3 linked regions of the Homo sapiens genome follow. The protein of the gene in region 3 interacts with the protein of the main gene of each other region in a biochemical or structural test. Each region holds a gene or a part of one and is shown on either strand. Other genes may lie near its edges.

Region 1 (7,000 bases), on a different chromosome or scaffold from region 3:
TTATTCAGAGGTAGGAAAGACTCAGAGGAGATGGGACTTGATTTAGAACTTGAAAGAAATAATTTGGATTAGCAGAGAGAAAAAGAGTATTCCAGGTTGCAGAAAAGCAAGCAAAAAAGACAGATACAGGAATAATCTCAAGCTCTGTGAGTGTAGCGATTGTGTCATTTTTATTTCCCCCCTTGTATGTGGAGCGGGGCTTAAGTATTGCAGGTGCTCTGTAAATGTATATTGAACTGAATTAAATGGAAACAAGTGGTTCTTTTAGCATCAGTTTCTAGCATCTATGGGAATCCTGTTTGTGTGGACAGGAAATCACAAAGAATGATAAATCAACTCTAAAATCCTCAAAAGTAACTAACCTCCCTTGCCCTTTTTCTCATCTTCTTGTATATAGTACAGGACAGCAAAATACAGCTTCCAATTATACAGCTGCGTAAAGTGTGGGCTGAAGCAGTGCACTATGTGTCTGGACTAAAAGAAGACTATAGCAGGCTCTTTCAGGGACAAAGGGCAGCAATGTAAGTGGATTCTGTTGTTTATAAGCACAATGCAATGTGCATCATATACTCAAGAATTAATCTTGCCGGTTTTCACTAATCAATATTGCATGTAATAGTAACATACTGGGCCAATTTGAAGTGTAATGTTCTGATAAACTTGTAGAATTCTTACTAATGGACTGAGACCATTCTATTGTAATGGCTTGAGGGTAATAATTCCCATACGGTCCTAGTATAAAAAGATTGTTTATCACAAAATATTATAGGCAGGAAGTCTTTAGAGATCAGATTCTAGAGCTCAGTTATTTCTCATAGATTGATAATAGAAACTTAGGCTTTGGCCTTGTGGCAGTTTATGTTTTTACATTATTGTTCAATGTTTCTGAATGCTGATAATATCTTTTTTCTTTTTCTTTTTTTTCTTGCTGTGGTTTAGGTTAAGTCTTCTTAGATATAATGCTAACTTAACAAAAATGAAGAACACTTTGATCTCAGCATCACAACAACTGAAAGCTAAATTGGAGTTTTTTCACAAAAGCATTCAGCTTGACTTGGAGAGATACAGCGAGCAGATGACGTATGGGATATGTAAGTGTCTGTGTAATGTATTTGAAAGGAGCATCTGGTTTCTTGAAGCCATCTGTTATTTTGCCTTCTTAACTCAGCCAGTTGTTTTACTTACCTTCACATTAGAACAAGAGACAGGACAACTTAAATTAACATAAACCATGTTTGTTTTGAATGTTACCTCTTTTTTTAAATTTGCTTAGTTGAGCAATTTAGCTTCACAATTGGGCTAAAATTATTTAGCTCTAAAAAAATACAGGTGCGATTTAATAATCTTGAATTTCAAACCTGATTTTAAAATAAATACAAAATCTGGACTTCTTAGCCAGTGCTGTGGACTGAATGTATCCCCCCCAAAATACATATGTTGAAATTCTGACCCTGAAGGTGAAGGTGTTGGTAGGTGGAGCCTTTGGGAAGTGATTAGGTCATGAGAGTAGAGCCTTCCTGTTTGGGATTAATGCTCTTACAAAAGAGACCTGAATGAGATCCCTCATCCCTTCTGCATGTGAGGACAGAGCAAGAAGATGGTCATCTAGGAACCAGAAAGCAGGCCCTCAAATCTGCCTTGTTCTTGGACTTCCCAGCCTCCAGAACTATAAGAAATAAATTTCTGTTGTTTTTATGGCACTTAGTCTATGGTATTTTGTTATAGTAGTCCAAATGGACTAAGACAACCAGGGGAGTCTTAAACTGCTTACTTTTCTGTAAATAATGACACAAATATTCTAAGGCTATGTTTTTTTCAAACCATCTACTGTGGAGTCCTACTATTTTTTAGTGTACACAGTCTCCAAATTTTCCATATTTGACTCCAAGCTTATCTCCTTCAGATGTACTAAGGAAGTGTAAAAAAACAGAGTTAAAATATGAGTAAATTGAAGGAGTCATACTACCAGCATTTCTGTTTTCTTTTATAAAACAAATCCTTTTTAGGAAACAAATACTTGTTTCCTAAAAACATATACTTGTCCTGAGCAAACTCTGTGTATCTCAGAGTAAACAATCAATAGTGTCCAGTTGGGTGAATGAATTTACTCTCCAGAACTGGTTTTATTAATATTATTGATATTTTATTTCTATTTATATATTATTGATATTTTATTTCTATTTGTATATTATTGACATTCTGGTGAGTGATAAAACATTATAATTATTTCATTAAAATATCTTAGACTTGTCAAAGGCTTATTATACAATTGTTAAAGAAAAATGAGGTAGATCTATATGTGCTTTTATTAAAAGATCACCTAAGTCTTTAGTTGACAGTTTTAAATTGTGGGAAAAAATAAAGAGTATACAGATGTTTTCACTTGTGAGGGAGCAGGCTATGTGTCTATGTAACAGATAATCATAGTAAGGTCCCTTGAGGTGGATGGTAGAGGGGTAGAAGAGAGAGTCTTTTCTGTTTATATCCTTTTATAGTATTTAATTTTTAAAAATCATATTCAAGTATTAAATTTCTTTTCTGGCCAGGTGGTGACTCACGCCTGTAATCCCAACACTTTGGGAGGCCAAAGCAGGTGGATCCCTTGAGCTCAGGAATTCAAGACTAACCTGGGCAACATGGGGTAGAACGCCATCTCTACAAAAAATGTAAAAATTAGCCGGGCATGGTGGTGCACACCTCAGCTATTCAGGAGGCTAAGGTGGGAGGATCGCTTGAGCCCTGGAGATAGAGGTTGCGGTGAGCTGAGATCATGCCACTGCACTCCAGCCTGGGTGACAGAGTGAGACTCTACCTCAAAAAAAAATTTTTTTTGTTGTTTTTTCCTTTATCCACCCATCTGCACACTGGTATAAATATATATATTTTTAAGAAAAAAGTCATCTGTATTCATTTCCTAAGGGTTCCATAACAAAATCCCATAAACTGAGTGGCTTAAGCAATGGAAACTTACTGTCTCACAGCCCTGGAGGCTAAAAGTCCAAAATTGAGGTGTTGGCAGGGCCATGTTTTCTCTGAAATCTGTAGAGAAGAATCTTTCCTTGTTTCTCTCTAGCTTCTTATGGTCTGCTAGCCATCATTGGCATTCCTTGGCTTACAGCTGCAGCACCTCAATCTGTCTCCATTGTCACAGAGCATTCTCCCCTGTGTATCTGTATCCTGTGTCTCTTCTAAGTACACTGGTCGTACTGGACTAAGGGCCCAGACCATTCCAGTATGAGTATTAATTTATCTGATTACTTCTGTAATGACCTTATTTCCAAATAGGTCACATTCTGAGGTATTAGGGGTTAGGAATTCCACATATCTTTTGGGGGACCACAATTCAACTCATAACACATCTTTGATGTTGATATGGCAAGGAGGCAGGCAGCCAGTAATTAAAGATATGGCTATTTCTGAGATAACCAATTTAGACTTTTCTTTTAGCTTCAGAAAAAATGCTAAAAGCATGGAAAGAAATGGAAGAAAAGGCCATCCACTATGCTGAGGTAAAATCATTGACGTCATTCTGTATACTTATTAATTCTTGATGTCTCCATTAGAAACTATCTTTGGTTTTGATATATAAAGAGCATTTTTCATGTCATTCCTGAAATTCAGACAAAATTCTAGTAGATGCTTTGTATATAAAGAGGGATGTATCATAGTGATTAAAAACAAGGGCTTTGGGAAAATTACCTAGTGCCTCACTGAGCTTCAGTTTCCTTTATTTATTTATTTTTTGAAACAGGGTCTCACTCTGTTGCCCAGGTTGGAGTGTAGTGGCATGATCAAAGCTCACTGCAGCCTCGACTTCCCAGGCTCAAGCAGTCCTCCCATCTTAGCCTCCTGTGTAGCTGGGACAAGAGGTGCACCACCATGCCTGGCTAACTTTTACATTTTTTGTAGAGACGGGGTCTCACTATGTTGTCCAGGCTTGTATCAAACTCCTGGGCTTAAGCAATCCTCCCACCTCAGCCTCCCATAGAGCTGGGATTATAGGCATGAGCCACCACATCCAGCTAGTTTCCATATTATAGGGACAATTTCTTTTCTAGTAGGGTTATGAAGATTAAATGGGAGTCAGTAATGGTAGTTGTCACTATTATTTTTGTGACTGGTTTAGATAGGATGGCTGCACATCCTGGTTTACCTGGGACTGTCCCAGTTTATACTTAATGTCTTGCCATAATTATCAGTAGTAGTCCCTTTCACTCTCAAAATTATGCCGGTTTGGACAATAAATTATATGGTGTCCCTAGGTATAGCTCATTCTCTAGGTGGCAGATTTTTTCCCCTTATCCTGTACATTTGTCCACGGTCCTAAGTTATTACACTCCTTAATGTCAGTACTTACCCTGAGGATGTGGGTGGGGATACCCATGGTGTCCTGGGGTGGGAAATCCAAGTTCTTTATCTTTTTGTGTCCCTATTCAAGGTAGTGGGGACCAGGGGGCAGTCAAAATCATAGAGCCAAGATACAAGTAATACCAATGGTTTTGGTGGTCCTTTTTCTTTCTTGTTAGTTGATACCTGTTGTAGCTTTTTGCTTCTCCGGAGGTAAAAGCAAATACTAGTAGTTTACTGTTGTCAGGAGAGAAAAGAGAGAAGACTAAGACTAAGTATGTTCTTATGTGAAAGATTAAGTGTCAGAATCTGAAGAATAGAAAGGCTTTAACAAAATCAGTGTTTCGTATTATATTATTTAGTTCTCTAATGAAGCAGCAAGTCATTCTGTATCCTTAAGATCTGAATTTTGTTTCCTATGATGTAGTGGTAAGCCTTTCATTTCCTTTGTATTTTCATCATATTTTAGGTTGGTGTCATTGGATACCTGGAGGATCAGATTATGTCTTTGCATGCTGAAATCATGGAGCTACAGAAGAGCCCCTATGGAAGACGTCAGGGAGACTTGATGGAATCTCTGTAAGGATGCACTTGTGTTGTTGGTCTTGACATCTGTAATATTTTGTATTCTTTCTGCTTACATCTGGCAAATTAAACCTCTAGTGGTTCTTTTCTATAGTTTTCCTTTCCCCAAATATATTGGCATTATATTTAAAATGGAAGCTTTTTCTCAGTCACAGGAAACTTCGGAAATAATTCTTTGGGTTGGCCTTTTTTGGTTTTTAATAAAAGCATTTATTTCATAGGAGTGTTAAGAATTTTCCAAGTATAACTAAGTTACAAACTATTTCCCTACTCATTATACCTCTGGTCCAAGGTATTGACTCTTAAATGCCCTAAAACTTGAAATTTTTTCTGAATTAAAGTTCTGGATTAAAAACTTCAGATATTTTCTCGAATTATAGGTCATAATTTTTGTCTTTTTAAGTGTCTGTGGTGCAGAGATGTCCCCATGATAGATCAGAATAGATATGAACTATATTAAACTTTGCATTTTAAGAACTTGTATAGTTCTTATTACTCAATACAATGCTCTGTGAAATACTTGTTGGCAATATGAACTTGCTTTAAAATGGGTTCATTATTCAAATAAAATATTGTTTCAAGTTGTAGATTATTGAAGTCATTAAATTACCTTCACTTATCAGAGCGTGTTTTCTCTTTTATAGGGAACAGCGTGCCATTGATCTATATAAGCAGTTAAAACACAGACCTTCAGGTAAGACACTTCTACCACAGTGCTTGAAGGCATTTTAGGTAACTATCACTAGCCTAACAAATGTGGGGGATCTAATATTTTTAAGTTAAAAATTTTCTTAAAGCTGCAGAATAAATTCCAGTTTTGGTATTGCCATTGAGACATGGTATAATAAGCTTTAAGATTGTGAGAATTTAGGAGATGATAAAGAGAAAGTAACAGAGAACGTGAGGTAGAAAAATTTTAGAAGGGGACGTGAAAAGAAAGAATGGAAGACAGAAAAAAGGAACTCAGAGAGGAAAAAGCAGCAAGAAAATGTTTAGAAAGATGGAAAAAATAAGTGTTGCTTAAGATTAGAGAGGTTGGGCCAGTTGTGGTGGCTCATGCCTGTAATCCCAGCACTTTGGGAGGCCAAGGTGGGTGGATCACCTGAGGTCAGGAGTTCAAAACCAGCTTGGCCAACATGGTGAAACCCCATCTCTACTAAAAATAGAAAAGTTAGCTGGGCATGTTGGCATGTGCCTGTAATCCCAGCTACTTGGGAGGATGAGGCAGGAGAATCGCTTGAACCTGGGAAGAGGAGGTTGCAGTGAGCCAAGATCACACCACTGCACTCCAGCCTGGGTGACAGAGCGAGATTCTGTCTCAAAACAAAACAAAAAAATATTATAGAGGTTGGAAAGAATTTGAGGCAGTGGGTTCAGGTATGGAATGGTTAGAGGGAAGGCCTGTGCTGTTCTAGGCCAAAGCAGATTGCTTTGAAAATAATGCCTTCATCTGCACTGGTCACTGATGACTTGTTTTGTTGGCAAAATAATTCCAGTTGAACATCTGCTAAATACTGAGCAAGGTCTGCTGGAAAGAGTACTGGATGGGGAATCAGAGGCTTGAATTCTAGATTGAGTAATTTACTGACCGTTACCTCAGGCAAATCTGCGTTTCCCATTTCCTTCTTCTGCAAAATGGGGTTGAAACCTAGCTTTCCTACTCAGTGAGTATATTGTGACAGTGTATTTAAGAGGATGTTTGTGAAAATGCTTTGAAAACTATAAACTATTATGTACTTGCAAGATATTATCATTTAGTTAAAAATTTGTTTTGAAGGGTAACAGAAGAAATAAAGTCTGTGCCCTAATGTGCATTATACTTAAATGCATGTTAAAAAAAGATATACTTTTACACTTTAAAATTTGTAGACACATAGCAACACATGCAAATTAATATACATGTGAAATTGTATTTCATATACTATTTTCACATTTAAAAAATAACATTATCTCCTCTTATACTGCTTTTATTTTACTGAAATGTATTCAGTTTAGTCTGACCAGCAGTTCTCAAAATGTGGCATATGGACCTGTGAGAATCCTTGAAACTTTGTCAGAGAGTCTGTGA
Region 2 (6,799 bases), on a different chromosome or scaffold from region 3:
AGATAAAAGAAAAACCTAATTGTTAAGTAATGAAAATTGAGCTAGGAATGAAAGATTGATATGAATGAAATGCCCAGTACTAGTAGAAAAGCAAGGATTTTTCTTTTCTTTTGGCAAGGAGAATCAAATGTTACATACTTTGCACTTCATTGGATTTTATTCTAAGAGAAATCTGATTTCAGAGTAAGTAAATATCTTTAAGGGAAAGTTTATGCTTACTGTTATAAGGTTTTTTTTGTCATATGGTTGTCTAAATGTTGTTAATATCTATGTCATTGTGGTCATTTTAAATCCTAAAATTTGTTGGCAAAAGAAAAAATTTTTATATGGCTTCTACTTTTTGTGGAAATAGTGATTAAACTGACAAATGTCTACATCCTTCAGATTTTTGAAATTACTGTTTATTTTGTTCTATCATAAATAGTTGAATAAAAGTTACTGTACAAATTTGAACTCTTTACAGGAAGAATATAAATCTAGTAAATAATAGTAGTTTGTTTTCCTGCCGTGTGAGTTTATTTTAGGTTACTGTTACAGTGATTTGTGGGAATCTGACAGGGGTTTGTTGCTGGTAGTGGTGGTGGTAGTGGTATGTGTGTGTTTGTGTTGGCAATGCTAAGAAACATCTTAAGGGAAAGACAATTCTAAGAAGTAACACTCTGAATTTTATTAATTTGTAGGCAATAAATATTTTCATTTTGTTTTAAATTTACTATTAGGGACCTTTCTTCTTTTTAAAAAATTATTGGGGTATATTTTAGGATTAAAGGCTCTTTTCTTTTCCCTTGAGCTGCTGGTATAACTTTCCTTGTTCTGTGTAATAGCTCAGCAAAACCCAGCAGCTCAGATTCCTGCCAGGCAGCGGGAGATTGAAATGAACCGACAGCAACGCTTCTTCCGCATCCCATTCATCCGCCCTGCCGACCAGTACAAAGACCCTCAGAGTAAGAAAAAAGGCTGGTGGTATGCCCATTTTGATGGACCATGGATTGCCCGGCAAATGGAACTCCATCCTGACAAGCCACCCATCCTACTTGTGGCTGGTGTGTATGATTCACATGGAAAACAAATTATAGAACAAAAAAGATCATAAACTCTCTGAATGAAACATTCTAATGTATAATATAATAATTTATTACATTTCAGGGTTGAGGGATGGAGTCTTGCGGTTAAATCACATTTCCAGTTCAGTGAGGATTAACTCATTTATAATGTGAAATTGCTTGGATTAAATTATGTTCTTAGCACATAGAAACTTGTCTGTATCCTAAAAACCTTTCCATTTGTGTTTCATCATATCCATTGATTTGTAGTGGCTTGAGGAAATGTAGCATTTTTATTAACTCTGGTAACTTGTTTGATCAATAGCAGTGTTTATTAATATTGAAAGGGTCCTTGATGGGGGACAAATTTTAATTGTTTCTGGTGATTTTATTAAGCAGATTTCCATCTTAGAGAAAAAGTCTTAGGAAGTTTTCAAATCTATGAGAATTAATAGGTATTTCAGGCATACAACTGGTAAGAAATGGTCCTGAAGAGAGAGATGGTAATTTTCTGATATCTCATGAATACAGGTAAGGACGACATGGAGATGTGTGAGCTGAATCTTGAGGAGACTGGCCTGACTCGGAAGCGTGGTGCTGAGATCTTGCCAAGACAGTTTGAAGAAATCTGGGAACGCTGTGGAGGCATCCAGTACCTTCAGAATGCGATTGAGAGCAGACAGGCTCGGCCCACCTATGCAACAGCCATGCTGCAGAGTCTGTTAAAGTAGATGTTGCACACCAGCCTTACAGCTGGGAGCCTTTGCCATGGTACTTAGGTAGGGTGTGTGCCCCCAGATTTAACCATTCCATAATCATGTTAGAGTTACTTCTATAAAGTGAACAGATTTTATTAATCACGGCTTTTGGTGAATTTGTTTAAGGTTAATTATGGTAGCAAATTTTGGACCTAAACATTATTTTTCTGTATCCCGCTGTAATTCCCAAAACTCTCATTATTCTCTAACTATTACACATGGGCATATTCTGATGTTTCTCATCCTTTGCCAGAAGACTACCTTACATCCATCGTAATTGTTCTCTAGGAAAAGAGAACTTTTTTCAAAATTCAAAATACTTTTTAAGGATGGCACAGTACCATATAACTGGAGTAATAAAACATGAGCTTACATTCTTACAATAACTAAACCACTTAAAATGATCAAGGCACTAATGTTTTGGTCTGAAAAGCTGTGTACTTTATAGACATTTTCAGACATTTTTGGAAATTTCCATTAAAGGTGGAAAATCTATTTTTTTCCTCCTTTGCAGTGTCTTAGTTTGAATGAAACACTTCGAAGTTCTAGAATTCTAGAAAGAGCCTTAATGTATTTGATGTATTCTGTGATAAGAGGTACTAATAGTATCCAGCACAGATTTGCTTTTCTTTGCTAGCACAATGTGTGTTGCTGTCAGAATATTCTTTTTATATTCTGTGGAAAAATAAAGGAAATTCAGATTGTTTAAATGCCTAAAAGTTTTGAGATAAGTTTTGTTTCAATTAGAAAAGGAAATAGGTTTTAGGTGGCATAGTGGCTTAACTGGACTGAATTCAAATATTCTTTCAACTTCATCTCAATAGTGATTTTTGTATCAGAATCTTGTCCAAGTTGTTTCATTGATTTAGTAAGTGTTCTGCTTCCAACATCTTTCTTTTTAAGAAATTCCTAGTGTCTTTTTTGGCCTTTGAGGTTTTGGTAATTGTAGACCTGTTTCATAAGCTTTGTAATTCAGAAATCCTTGTATTTAGTAAGTGCTTGTTTTACATAACTGATAATTTTAAAATGTTTTCTTTGTGTGCTGTTAGTATTGATTCAAATGTCAGCAGCTTTAAGCCTAATATTTATGACTTTCACATTTGGAATTTAAAGACAAAAATACATCAAGGAGTTATGCTGACATAATTCTAAGGAGTTTTGTTGTATTTTAGAATAAAATTATAAAGTAAAATGATTCTCTGTACTGCTTTTTCCCCCAGTTTTTAGAGACCCTAACCTTTGAAATGAAATTCCAGTGATTTCTTTTTTCCCTAGAAAGATTACCTCAGTTAGGGAAGTATTTCCCAGCTGACTAGTGTTTGTGAGCCACAGACACTGTCTTCAGAATTGCTTCTCTCATGTCTTAGTAGAGAAATATTTATTTATTATGATACATTCAAATGATTGTCAAGTTAAATTAAATGGTTGTGTCTGTGCTATTGAGAATGCAAATGTGATTATCTTTTGAAGGCTGTATTACTGCATAGCTTCACCCACCCTCGGGTCATTTCGTCCCTGTGATTGGGGACAGAAGGTGTAGCTACTGAAGTAAATGACCTATTCTCTCTCTTCCATCTCTCGCCTTTAACTGGTGTTTTTATTTGTGTAGGATAGTGAATGATAAGCTTTTTTCCTAACCAGTAGTGAGTAAAGTTCTTGAACAAAATTTAGTAGCCAAATTGTTTTTTAATGACATGTCTCTTTAGTACAATAGTTTTGTGTATCTTTTAGATACATTAATAGGCACTAGATGGAAAATTAAAGAGTTAAACATATTTAAATGAGAGAATCTAATGTTTCAGAAATTTGTAAGAAATGTATCACAGCAAAGGGTTGTTATAAGTCCTTAGTTTTTGACTCTAATAGTTAATACAATTATAGTTAATCTTAAGCCATAATGTTTCTAATCATGTCACACAGCTGTCCTAGAACTTATCTATTTAAAATAGTTTCCTGAGTTAATTTTGGCCAGCAGGGCAACTGCCCTAATTCAGATAGATTTACAGTAACCTACGTACAGTAGATGCACATACACACAGACACCCCTTTGCTGGAGAAACTTAGGACCCTGTCAGCCTTTTAAAGGAAACAGCAGGAGTGGTGTCCTAAATGATGTTCATGCAGCTGCTTTACCATGTTCACAGTCAAGCCCATGCATGCCAGGTTAAAACTGTGGAAATCAAAAGTAAATTCACTCATATTTTAATCATTTTAACTGAGATTTAAAATTAGAAGTTTAAACCACTATATATAAAGAACTAATCTTTTCTTAATACCAGTTCTTTCCATAGCATATGCTTTGCAAAGGCAGCATGCATAAAATATTTAAAATGAGAGGACAGAATGTTTTCACATTTGATTCAATTTTAATATAATTCCTAATTGTGGTAACACAGTTGAGATATGTATTATGAGTTATGGGAACTAATTGAGAAAAGGAAGTTACTCTAATCCACGTATGTTAAGAGAATATTGAGTTTTCTTAGTTGTAAAGTTGGGGAGATGGCACCTTCTCAGAGGATTGTGAAAATATGAGGAAGAAACAAAACAGTGCATGTAGGAGCACAGGGCCACACAAAGGCATTCTATTGTTATGCTCATTCTGCTTCTGTAATGACTTTTCATAGGTCATTCTTGTGAACCATTTTGTTTTGCAAGCAACCAAGGAAAGAACATCTTAAGTGGAAAATCAGTGGTGGTTGTGAACACTTAGAGAATAGCAATCCACAGGCAAGAATAATGGTATTGTTTGTAGAGCTTTATTAATTGGATATTTTTTAAAAGACATTTTCATTCACAGGTCATTACTATGGTTCTCAGCGATCCAAATATGTAGATCATTGGTTTTTTTTTTTACCTGAAGTAGCTTAAGAGTACTTGGATCAGTAGAATAAATATTTATTGAATCAATCAGTCAGCCAATTAATATGATGTTAGTGATAGACCTGCCTCCTTTTATGGAAGAGGTAACAGATCCAGAGAGGTCAAGTAATTTAGTTGTAGACTGAAAAATATATCAAAGCCTTTGCTGCAATCATATGTAACAAAAAGAACCAAAACAAACACTTTTTAGTGGCACCTGTGGATTTACAAAGGGTTGCCTCTCTGTCATTCCACAACTTCAGAAGGTGTGACAGGTTTTCCCTATTTATCATTACCAATAATAACAAGTATTGAGAGTTTTAAAATTTCTCCCAGAAGATAAACTAACAAGGATGGAAGGGGAGGGCAAAGGATATCTAAACATGAGAATAAGGACATGTTAGAGGGGGGGAAACAGTTGTAACAATAAGGAAAGAGAAGAGCAACAGTGGAAGAGACAGGTTGTGTGCCCCTAAAGATTCTGCACCCCCAGTTTGGAAACACTGATACATTTTAGGACACAGAGCACTCCTAGATCTCTACGAAATTTTAGAATGAATAATGTGTAATTTATAGGATCAGAACGTATGGTTATTAAAACTTGGATCAAGATATGCCCGGTGTATACATTCTTAGCACATAGGAATGGCACTGCCATACTGGAGAAGGTCAGCAGTAAATAGGCATTCTGTACATAAGCCTCATGGAAGGGTAAGATGGAGAGACTGGCAGAAGTAGCACCTACTCTGCTGGGAGCACTTCTCTGAGTACGCTTTAGTTCAATTCAAATCACTGTATTCTTTCCCCATTGCTAACCTAATATATGAAACAAGCTTAGCTGTCTCAGAAGTTTTTCAAGAGATGATCAGGAAAAATTAATGCACATTCAAAAGGAGAATCTTCAGTACAAATTTGTTTTTTTAAAAATAGATTTAGGGCTGGGCGCGGTGGCTCACGCCTGTAATCCCAGCACTTTGGGAGGCCGAGGCGGGTGGATCACGAGGTCAAGACTTCGAGACCAGCCTGGCCAACATGGTGAAACCCTGTCTCTACTAAAAATACAAAACATTAGCCAGGCGTGGTAGTGGGTGCCTGTAATCCCTGCTACTTGGGAGGCTGAGGCAGGAGAATCACTTGAACGCGGGAGGCAGAGGTTGCAGGGAGCCGAGATGGCGCCATTGCACTCCATCCTGGGCAACAAGAGCGAAATTCCATCTCAAAAAATAAAATAGATTTAGGGGGTACAAGTGCAGTTTTGTTACATGGGTATATTGCATAGTGGTAAAATGTGGGCTTTTAGTGTACCTAACACCCAGAGAAGCATACATTGTGCCCAGTAGGTAATTTTTCATCCCTAAACCTTTTCTCAGCCTCCCACTTTCTGGAGTCTCCAATGTCGGTTATTCCACTCTTTATGTCCATATCTACACATTCAATCCTAATTTGTACCAAGTAGCATCTCACCTTTAAATCACAGGCTTATTAGTTGGGTGTTTTCTTTTTACTTATGAAAATTCATCTAGTCAAACTGTCAATTAATTTTTCCTCATTTCATTAAAAGTGTATATCTAATGCTTTCTCTAAAAATTGATGTACTGGAAATACAAATAAATAAATGCTCCCTGTGTAGAATTTCCACTTGCATCTTGTGCTTTTAATACCATTACAGGGTGTCATGAACAGGTTGTAAATGTTGCACTTATTGCCGTGTTTCAGATGGAATAAGTTGGCGAATTCTGGGCTCCTGAAGCTTGATCCAGTCGCTAGGGCTGGAAGCACTGTGTTAGGTGGCTGCAGGAAGAAGCAAGGAACTCAAGGTGATTGAAACTTCTTTGGACATAGGCCCCAAATTTCCTATGTGATCTCCATCCAGGAAACAGGCAGGATTCTGTGTGAGTGACAGCTACTCATTTTGTAGAGATTAGAGACACACCAAATTTTGGCTGCCTTTCTCCAGACCGTTACTAATCTGTGAGAAGACACAGGATGTAAAAACTGGGGACCAAAAGAAGGCTCCTTCTCCCTAAGGCCTTGAATATAGCTGGTCCATTCCCTGTGTCAAGAACCTACCATGATCCTGCTGGGTCCTCTGAGAGTGGAAGGAGACTCTGTCCATCTCACCTCATCAGCTCTTCC
Region 3 (8,364 bases):
CTTTGATTTAGCCTTGGTTAAAATTAAACATTTGAAGATTATCTTAACATTTCCTTAAAATAATTTTTATTAACTTTAATTATCATTGATACACAGTGACTCACAAAATACAGGTATTTAATAAGAAACACTGGGAAGGAAGAATCTTGTTGACATAAGTACCTTAAAAATTCAAAGTACTTTGCTGGCTATTACTCTTCTCAGTAAGATGAGGAAGAGAGGTTAGAAAATATTTACATTCTAGTGACCTTTCAGTTGCACAAGGAACAAAGAACACTGTTAGGAGCCAATGGGGCAAAGGTCTTATATAAACCTCTGCAGGCTCTGTTTCTTAGTATCATAAATTATAGTTTCTCTTTTTGATAGTGCAAGAAACTTCCCAAAACACTCAATTTTAACTTCAAAGTTTCTGCTTAGTATTTCCAGACGTAAACTTTAGTGTAAAGCATGTGATGACTACAAAGTCTGTAATGCATTTGTTATAGGAAATTTTCCTTAATGTGCAAGATAGGAAGTCAAGGGAGTTTAAGGTGTTGGAAGTCGTGTTAATGAAATTATAGCTATGGACTCTAAGTTGGATACTGAGGGAAGTATTAAAAAAAGAAATGGATTGAGATGCTGATGAGTTTGAAAAATAGTTCTGCTGGGCATATTTGAATGAACAAGTTAGAAGAATAGGAGATTGTGGTCAAAGAGTAGGAGGCTTGCTTTTCAAGATGATGGCAAGGGCCAAGGTGTGACCACAGAAATAGGTATCTGGAGTGGAGTATTTGAGATGAGGGATTCAGGAAATTAAAATGCTGGGATGTTGGCCTTTTCATTTTAATCTCATCCAAGTAGACAATGAATGGCTTAGAATGGAGGAGACTGTGCACTAGGTGACACTCTTCACTGAATGAGGAACAGTGACTTGGAGATCAGAAGACGACAGCCACAGGGAGGGAAGACGGAGCATAACACAACAGTGTATATCTCAAAGGAGCAAAGGTGTGTTACAAGCACCTAGGTAGGTAATGATTGGGAAACAAGGAGCAATGAATACATCAATAAAATCTAACAGACAGGGAAAGAGAAAATCAGCCTATTTTAGAGTGTTTGGAATCCTCTCTTTCTCTGCCTATCCAAAGCCTACCATTATTCAAATCTCATTTTTAAAGGCTCTCTTTTTAGATTGAGACCATCCTGGCCAACATAGTGAAACCTCGTCTCAACTAAAAATACAAAAAAATTATCTGGGTGTGGTGGCATGCACCTGTAGTCCCAGCTACTTGGGAGGCTGAGGCAGGAGAATCACTTGAACCCGGGAGGCAGAGGTTGCAGTGAGCCAAGATTGCGCCACTGCACTCCAGCTTGGGTGAAAGAGTGAGACTCTGCCTAAAAAAAAAAAAAAGCTCTCTTTTTAAAACAAAGGTTTACAAAGGTGTTTTTTTCTTTTTAATTAAGAATCATTTATAACAAAAGGAATCTTTAATACAAATTCTAATGTAAACCATTGTTCTAAGAAAGGAGAACAACTCATTTGCCTGGCTTTTAAAACCTGTAATGTTTCTAATAAAACATGTCTATTTGAACTTTTTCAAAAATTTTCAATCCATGTTTTGCTATCTAGTTGTCCCATCTGTGCCTTTTAAATTATATTATTCTCACTATGTAAGCCTTTTTTTCATCTTTTCAAATCTTATCAGTCTTTTGAAGTTTAGAGACCAATCTCTTTTACAAAGTCTAGCTAATTTCAAAATTAATTATTCTGTATATCTTTCTACTTTATTTCTCATAGTCCATTTCCTTCAAATTTGACAGTTATCTATACCATCCGGTAACATCTTGACCTGATTTTAAGCAGTTTCAGGGAAGAAACCATGCTTGATTCCTTGTTTTTCCCAGAGCACATAGTAAATGAACAAAATGCTCTTATTAAGAAGCGACATGACACAATGGTGAATGAATGAACTTTGGAGGAAATTATTATTTTTGGTTAACAATTTTCTTCTTGCCTGATTCCCTTGCCCAAGCTCTTAAATCCTGACTGGAAAGTCCTCCTCCTCCATCTCCTCATCGAAATCATACCTCACTTTGACAGTCTAGGCCTGCCTCCCCCATGAAAAGTGTACTGCTAACATAAGCCTGTACTTTCTCCCATCTCTGAATATCTGTCTTCCTATTCATTTACACTTTAGTTACCTACATTTTCATGGGCTCATTTCTTTTCTTCCCTTTGCTATCATAAGTTCCTCTAATGAAAGAACAGTGCCTTTTAAATATAGTCAGCATATTTTCCCAATCAAACACAGGACAACTGCCTAGAAACTACTTGACACTGTAGTTGCTCCAGAAAAATCATGGGTTACTCACTGATTTACTTTCCAATAATTCTCTCAATATTCACCACTTCGAAATCTAAAAAGCTCTGAAAATTGGCCAGGTGCGGTGGCTCATGCCTGTAATCCCAGAAGGAGAATCACTCGAACCTGGGAGGCAGAGGTTGCAGTGAGCCGAAATCTTGCCACTGCTCTCCAGCCTGGGTGACAGGGAAGAGGGCAGAGACCCCGTCTCAAAAAAAAAAAAAAAAAGAAAAAGCTCTGAAAATCAAATGTTTTCTCAACATTTGGTGGCAAAACCTGTTTGACCTGACTCATTTGTCATTAAAACTTGACCTGAACCCAAGGGCAAAGTGGCAGAACCTGACCTGAAAAACTTGACTTGAGTGAGACTATACATTTCATTTATCTTAGTGTGATATTCATAATTGTTCCGGAAAAAAAAGTTGACTGTGGGTGCTGCCCCAGATAGTGAGGAATGTCACATAAAGCACACCTCTCTAAAGTCTGAAAAATTCTGAATTCTGAAATCCATCTGGCAGAAAGATTTCACTTAAAGGAAGTGAATCCATATCTCTTCTAGCCATAGTCCACTGCCATACAAATAAGAGGCTAACTTTAAGAAATTCAATTAAAGCCGGGTGCGGTCTCTCATGCTTGTAATCCCAGCACTTTGGGAGGCTGAGGCAGGCAGATCACCTGAGGTCAGGAGTTGGAGACCAGCCTGGCCAACATGGAGAAACCCCGTCTCTACTAAAGATATAAAAATTAGCCCAGTGTGGTGGTGTGCGCCTGTAATCCTAGCCACTGGGGAGGCTGAGGCAGGAGAATTGCTTGAATCTGGGAGGTGGAGGTTGCAGTGACCCGAGATCATGCCACTGCACTACACCCTAGGTGACAGAGCGAGACTCTGTCTCAAAAAACAAACAAACAAAAAACCCAAACCCTACTCCCCCAAAACCCAGAAATTCAATTAAATACTAAGAGGGTATCTATTTATCTTGGTGGGAAAAACTTGGTCTAAAAATTAAAGGATCATTATTAAAATGAATGAAGCAAGCTAAAATTCCAGAACAAATACCTTCCTGGGGAAAATAAGGTCTAAAAATTCAAGAAATAATTAAAAATAACAAAGTAAAAATACCTGTGAAAATGTCCTTTGAGACCAGCCTGACCAACACGGCGAAACCTCCTCTCTACTAAAAATACAAAAATTAGCCAGGCGTGGTGGCTGGCTCCTGTAATCCCAGCTACTTGGGAGGCTGAGGCAGGAGAATTGCTTGAACCCGGGAGGCGGAGGTTGCAGTGAGCCGAGATCGCGCCACTGTACTGCAGCCTGAGCAACAAGAGCGAAACTCCGTCCCTCTCAGGGCAAAAAAAAAAGTCTTTCAATTATGGTTTTTATTAAGCATACTGTTTTTCTGATTTCATTAACTGAAAATTAGTGGTAATTAAAAATGTATTACATATAAATAGGAATGTGATTTAAACAAAGAGTGACATCTCTGACAAATTGTGCTTATAAAATTCACTGCTATGTTTACATTTCTTAAGGGACACAGTTATTTCTACTACCAGAAGGTTGCTACCAGTAACGCAAGTGATAACTTATGTTGATTATTCACACCGTTTTCTTCATCCATAAAATAAGGAGACTGGGACTAAATGGCCTATTAAGGTTCTTCTGAAATTCTATGATCAAGTATAATACCCAGCACAAGACCAAGTTCAAAAATGTCAATACACAGGAAACAAATCAGTCTGTAAATATTGAGAACCTATGTTATCAAAGCTAATGTCTTCTGAAATAACTGGAAGTAAAGATGAAAGTATATGAAAGATAATTTTGAATGTTCTGTATTTAGAATGTGCTTCAACATTTAATGCGATCTAATTTACATATCCTTTCTGGTGCTATTGCAAGGTTTGTCAGGGTTTTACGGCAACAGAAGACTATGATGAATTCGAATGGGACACATTTGCTTCTGTGGAGTTACGATTCAAACTGAATGTCCAATATAGGAAGGCAACATATACAACAAGCAAAAGTGATTTTAGAAATAACAGAACGCGGGAGAAAATTCACACACGGAAAATGATACGGATAACAAAAGCAGGTAACTCACAGAAATGCGGCTAGAAAAGAGGCCTCTGCTGGAGCGAGAGCAAATAGAATCAGAGGGCATTAGAACTGAAAAGCTCCTAGGAGCTTTCAGTGAACAAAACTTCATAGCCAAAAAAGCACACGACTGGGCCAGGAGTTCAGAGACAGTCTTGGTGCTCAGGGGTTTGCAGCCCTAGCCGTGTGGTCACTCCCTTGCTTCTCTGGCTATTTCCTTATCTATAAAATGAGTGGGCTAGTTTAGGCCGACTGAGACGCAGACAGGGATACGGTACTGTCCATGGACCTCTGAGCTGCCCTTTCCACATCGCTGGTGAGTTACTTAAACCTCCTGTGTGTTTCCCCCTTTCGTATGTCAAAATAATAACATAAAATCAGAATGTAAATCCAGACGCATTGTTTTGCTGCGATTAAGTTGAACGAAAATAGCAAGGACGAAGTAAGGAGAGAGCCAGCCTACCCGCGGGATGAGGCGTCCCGCGGCGGAGTGGGCTGGGGGCGTGTCGTCGCGGAGGGGAGCGGCGAACCAGGCAGGAGGCGGAAGAGACCGCCCCGTGGGCGGAAGTGACGCAAGGCCTACTGTCGGCTGGGAGGGGAGGTGTAGCCGGTCTTTGGGGGTAGGCGGTAGTGGCGGAAGAGGTTCGGCGGCTGATGGCGGATCAGGATCGGAAGCCTGCGTAACTTTCTCCCTTGATCCGGGAGTCTTTCCACTGGGTAAGGCGCCTCCCCGGTCCACCCCAGCGCCTTGTGCGGGGCGGCCTCCAGCTGCATCTCTTTTAGGGCTCGTGCTACACCCTTCAGCCCCTGTACTGTAGGGGCCTGGCCGGTCTCGGGAGAGGTCTCTGTGGTGACGAGGCTTTCCTTCCCGAAGACAAACCTTCCTTTCCAGACTGCGATTGTGACGGGGGTGTGGGCGACTCGGATCAGCTGTGGAGTTTTGGAATGGCAACGGGTGGCCGCCCCACGCGGTGGGAGGCCCGTGGGACAGGCCTTCGCGATTTGGGGGAGGCGTGTGGGACGGGGGCCCTTTGGCTGGGGACGAGTGACGCTGGCGACCCCCGAAGGAAAAGCTTCTGGTGTCCAAGGCTAAACTCTGGGGTGACTGTTTTGAGGGCAGTGTGGGTTTTACCGGCGCAGTAAGCTGAGAAAACACGTAGGTCGCGTCCGAGAAGGACGCTGGGGTTTGCCTTTGCGGAGAGAAACCCAGCTGTTTTGGTTTGAGTCGCCGGTGGCGAAGGGGGCGGAGACTCCCTGCGCCGCCTACTTTTGAGGGCCGCGGGCGGAGTTGGCGGTTCTGGCTGATGGCCTGCTTCACCTGGAATCCATTCCCCACCCCGCCCCGTTCGCAAGGTGTGGACTAGTCCCGACCGACTTGCACTCCTGGCTTAGGGAATCTGTGGCTAGAGTTTAGCGTGCGCGCGCGCGCGTACACCTTATTAGTAAAAAATTGAGCTTAGCGTGCGTCTGTGTGGGTGTGTGTACACACCTTATTGGTAAAAGTTTTGTTAGAAAACACTGGCATTTGACTTTAGACATACACAGTGTTAGATTTCCGGTTTCACACAGTGGTTATGAATTGCTATTATGTTAGGCTTTAGATGGGAAAATAAATCTTGATTTTTCAGCTGTCTGCATTCTGCTAATGTTAAAATTTCTACGAGCTGTGCACGAACAATTAATAGTTACAAGTTTGGTGCTCAATTCCTAAAGGATTTAAAGAGATCATTTGAATAGAAACTAAAAGTGGGTCGATCGTCCTCAAAGTGCTTTTCGGGTTTAGGGAAGGAGCTTAGGACAGCCTTTCTCTTTCGTTCTGTTCCTTTCAAGGGTAAACTTGAAGGATTGTTTGATGATGCCGACTTCTAATAAGGTTTTATTTATTTTTCAAACTGATTGTTCAACTTCAAAGAACATTGTAGTTTTTGTTTTCTAGTCATCACGTTCTTTTTTTTTTTTTTTCCTTGAGATGGAGTCTTGCTCTGTCTCCCAGGCTGGAGTGCAGTGGCGCGATCGCGGCTCATTGCAACCTCCGCCTCCCAGGTTCAAGCGATTCTCCTGCCTCAGCCTCCTGAGTACCTGGGATTACAGGCGCGCACCACCACACTGAAGGGGTGGGTTGCCCCTCCACACCTGTGGGTGTTTCTCGTTAGGTGGAATGAGAGACTTGGAAAAGAAAAAGACACAAAGTACAGAGAAAGAAATAAGGGGATCCGGGGAACCAGCGTTCAGCATATGGAGGATCCCGCCAGCCTCTGAGTTCCCTTAGTATTTATTGATCATTTGTGGGTGTTTCTCCGAGAGGGGGCTATGTCAGGGTCACAAGACAATAGTGGGGAGAGGGTCAGCAGACAAACACGTGAACAAAGGTCTTTGCATCATAGACAAGGTAAAGAATCAAGTGCTGTGCTTTTAGATATGCATACACATAAACATCTCAATGCTTTACAAAGCAGTATTGCTGCCCACATGTCCCACCTCCAGCCCTAAGGCGGTTTTTCCCTATCTCAGTAGATGGAACGTACAATCGGGTTTTATACTGAGACATTCCATGCCCAGGGACGGGCAGGAGACAGATGCCTTCCTCTTGTCTCAACTGCAAGAGGCATGCCTTCCTCTTATACTAATCCTCCTCAGCACAGACCCTTTACGGATGTCGGGCTGGGGGATGGTCAGGTCTTTCCCTTCCCACGAGGCCATATTTCAGACTATCACATGGGGAGAAACCTTGGACAATACCTGGCTTTCCTAGGCAGAGGTCCCTGCAGGCTTCCACAGTTTTTGTGTCCCTGGGTACTTGAGATTAGGGAGTGGTGATGACTCTTAAGGAGCATGCTGCCTTCAAGCATCTGTTTAACAGAGCACATCTTGCACAACCCTTAATCCGTTTAACCGTGAGTTTGACACAGCACATGTTTCAGAGAGCACGGGGTTGGTGGTAAGGTCATAGATTAACAGAATCTCAAGGCAGAATAATTTTTCTTAGTACAGAACAAAATGGAGTCTCCTATGTCTACTTCTTTCTACACAGACACAGTAACAGTCTGATCTCTCTTGCTTTTCCCCACACATACCCGGCAAATTTTTGTATTTTTAGTAGAGACGAGGTTTCTCCATGTTGGTCAGGCTAGTGTCGAACTCCTGACCTCTTGATCCGCCTGCCTCGGCCTTCCAAAGTGCTGGGATTACAGGTGTGAGCCACCGCACCCAGCCCATCACGTTCTTAAATTGTAGACCGCTGTTTATAGTTCTCACTGCAGCCATGTTTGTAGAATTAACCAGCAAATACCTTTTCCATAACAAAAGTAAAATTTTGGAATTCAAAGTTTCAACCTTTTTAATAATGTTAAAATAATCATGAAAGATCCTAATGATGCTCCTTGTATACTTCTTTTGGGGACTTTGTTGTATTCTTTTGGAATGGATATGTTAAATCTGGGCTTTATGCATTTCTGTCTTTTTAAAGCTTATTTTGTCCCAAATAAACCTTTAGAAGAAGATAAAAATGTCCTCTACCCTAATATGTGTGGGCCAATATCATAGCATTTTAGAAACCAACTTATAAAAATCTAAAAAGTAAATAAAAGTGGTGCGGGTGATACCTGGGCGGAATGTCTTGGCACTCAGGTGTAAAGGATTCTGGAAATAGGGATGTCTGCAAGGGTGCAAATTAATAGACTGGGGCTTTTGCTGTTGCCTCCTAGAAAAATTGCTGATTACATTTTTTGGGAGCAGAGGTCTGTTGAGAGTTGTTAGTCTTTCTTTTTTTGAGCCACAGTGTGAATAATTGGAAACTATTTGAATGCTGGACATTTTTTCCTTTCATATGTTTGTGTGTCCTATCGGATTAAAGTTTGGAGATAATTCTAAAGGTTTTTTAGCTGAAGATGTGAAAAACTTTCAGTAACTCTATCAACCATTACCTGA

Evidence for each region.
Region 1: of the proteins of TAX1BP1 (region 3) and CHUK, one has a biochemical effect on the other in vitro, tested with the Homo sapiens proteins (one study listed by IntAct).
Region 2: the proteins of TAX1BP1 (region 3) and MYO6 form a complex in vitro, tested with the Homo sapiens proteins (5 studies listed by BioGRID, with this or other methods).

What each region holds. Positions count from the first base shown.
Region 1 is NC_000010.11:100,198,597-100,205,596, reverse strand, and holds part of CHUK (inhibitor of nuclear factor kappa-B kinase subunit alpha), read left to right. Parts: intron 1-397; coding exon 398-521; intron 522-939; coding exon 940-1,091; intron 1,092-3,447; coding exon 3,448-3,509; intron 3,510-4,816; coding exon 4,817-4,926; intron 4,927-5,576; coding exon 5,577-5,626; intron 5,627-6,428; coding exon of another isoform or gene 6,429-6,496; exon of another isoform or gene 6,497-7,000.
Region 2 is NC_000006.12:75,913,239-75,920,037, forward strand, and holds the end of MYO6 (unconventional myosin-VI), read left to right. Parts: intron 1-824; coding exon 825-1,043; intron 1,044-1,574; coding exon 1,575-1,774; 3' UTR 1,775-6,299; downstream 6,300-6,799. UniProt on the Homo sapiens protein: Myosins are actin-based motor molecules with ATPase activity. Unconventional myosins serve in intracellular movements. Myosin 6 is a reverse-direction motor protein that moves towards the minus-end of actin filaments.
Region 3 is NC_000007.14:27,735,116-27,743,479, forward strand, and holds the start of TAX1BP1 (tax1-binding protein 1), read left to right. Parts: upstream 1-5,046; 5' UTR 5,047-5,154; exon of another isoform or gene 5,155-5,560; intron 5,561-8,364.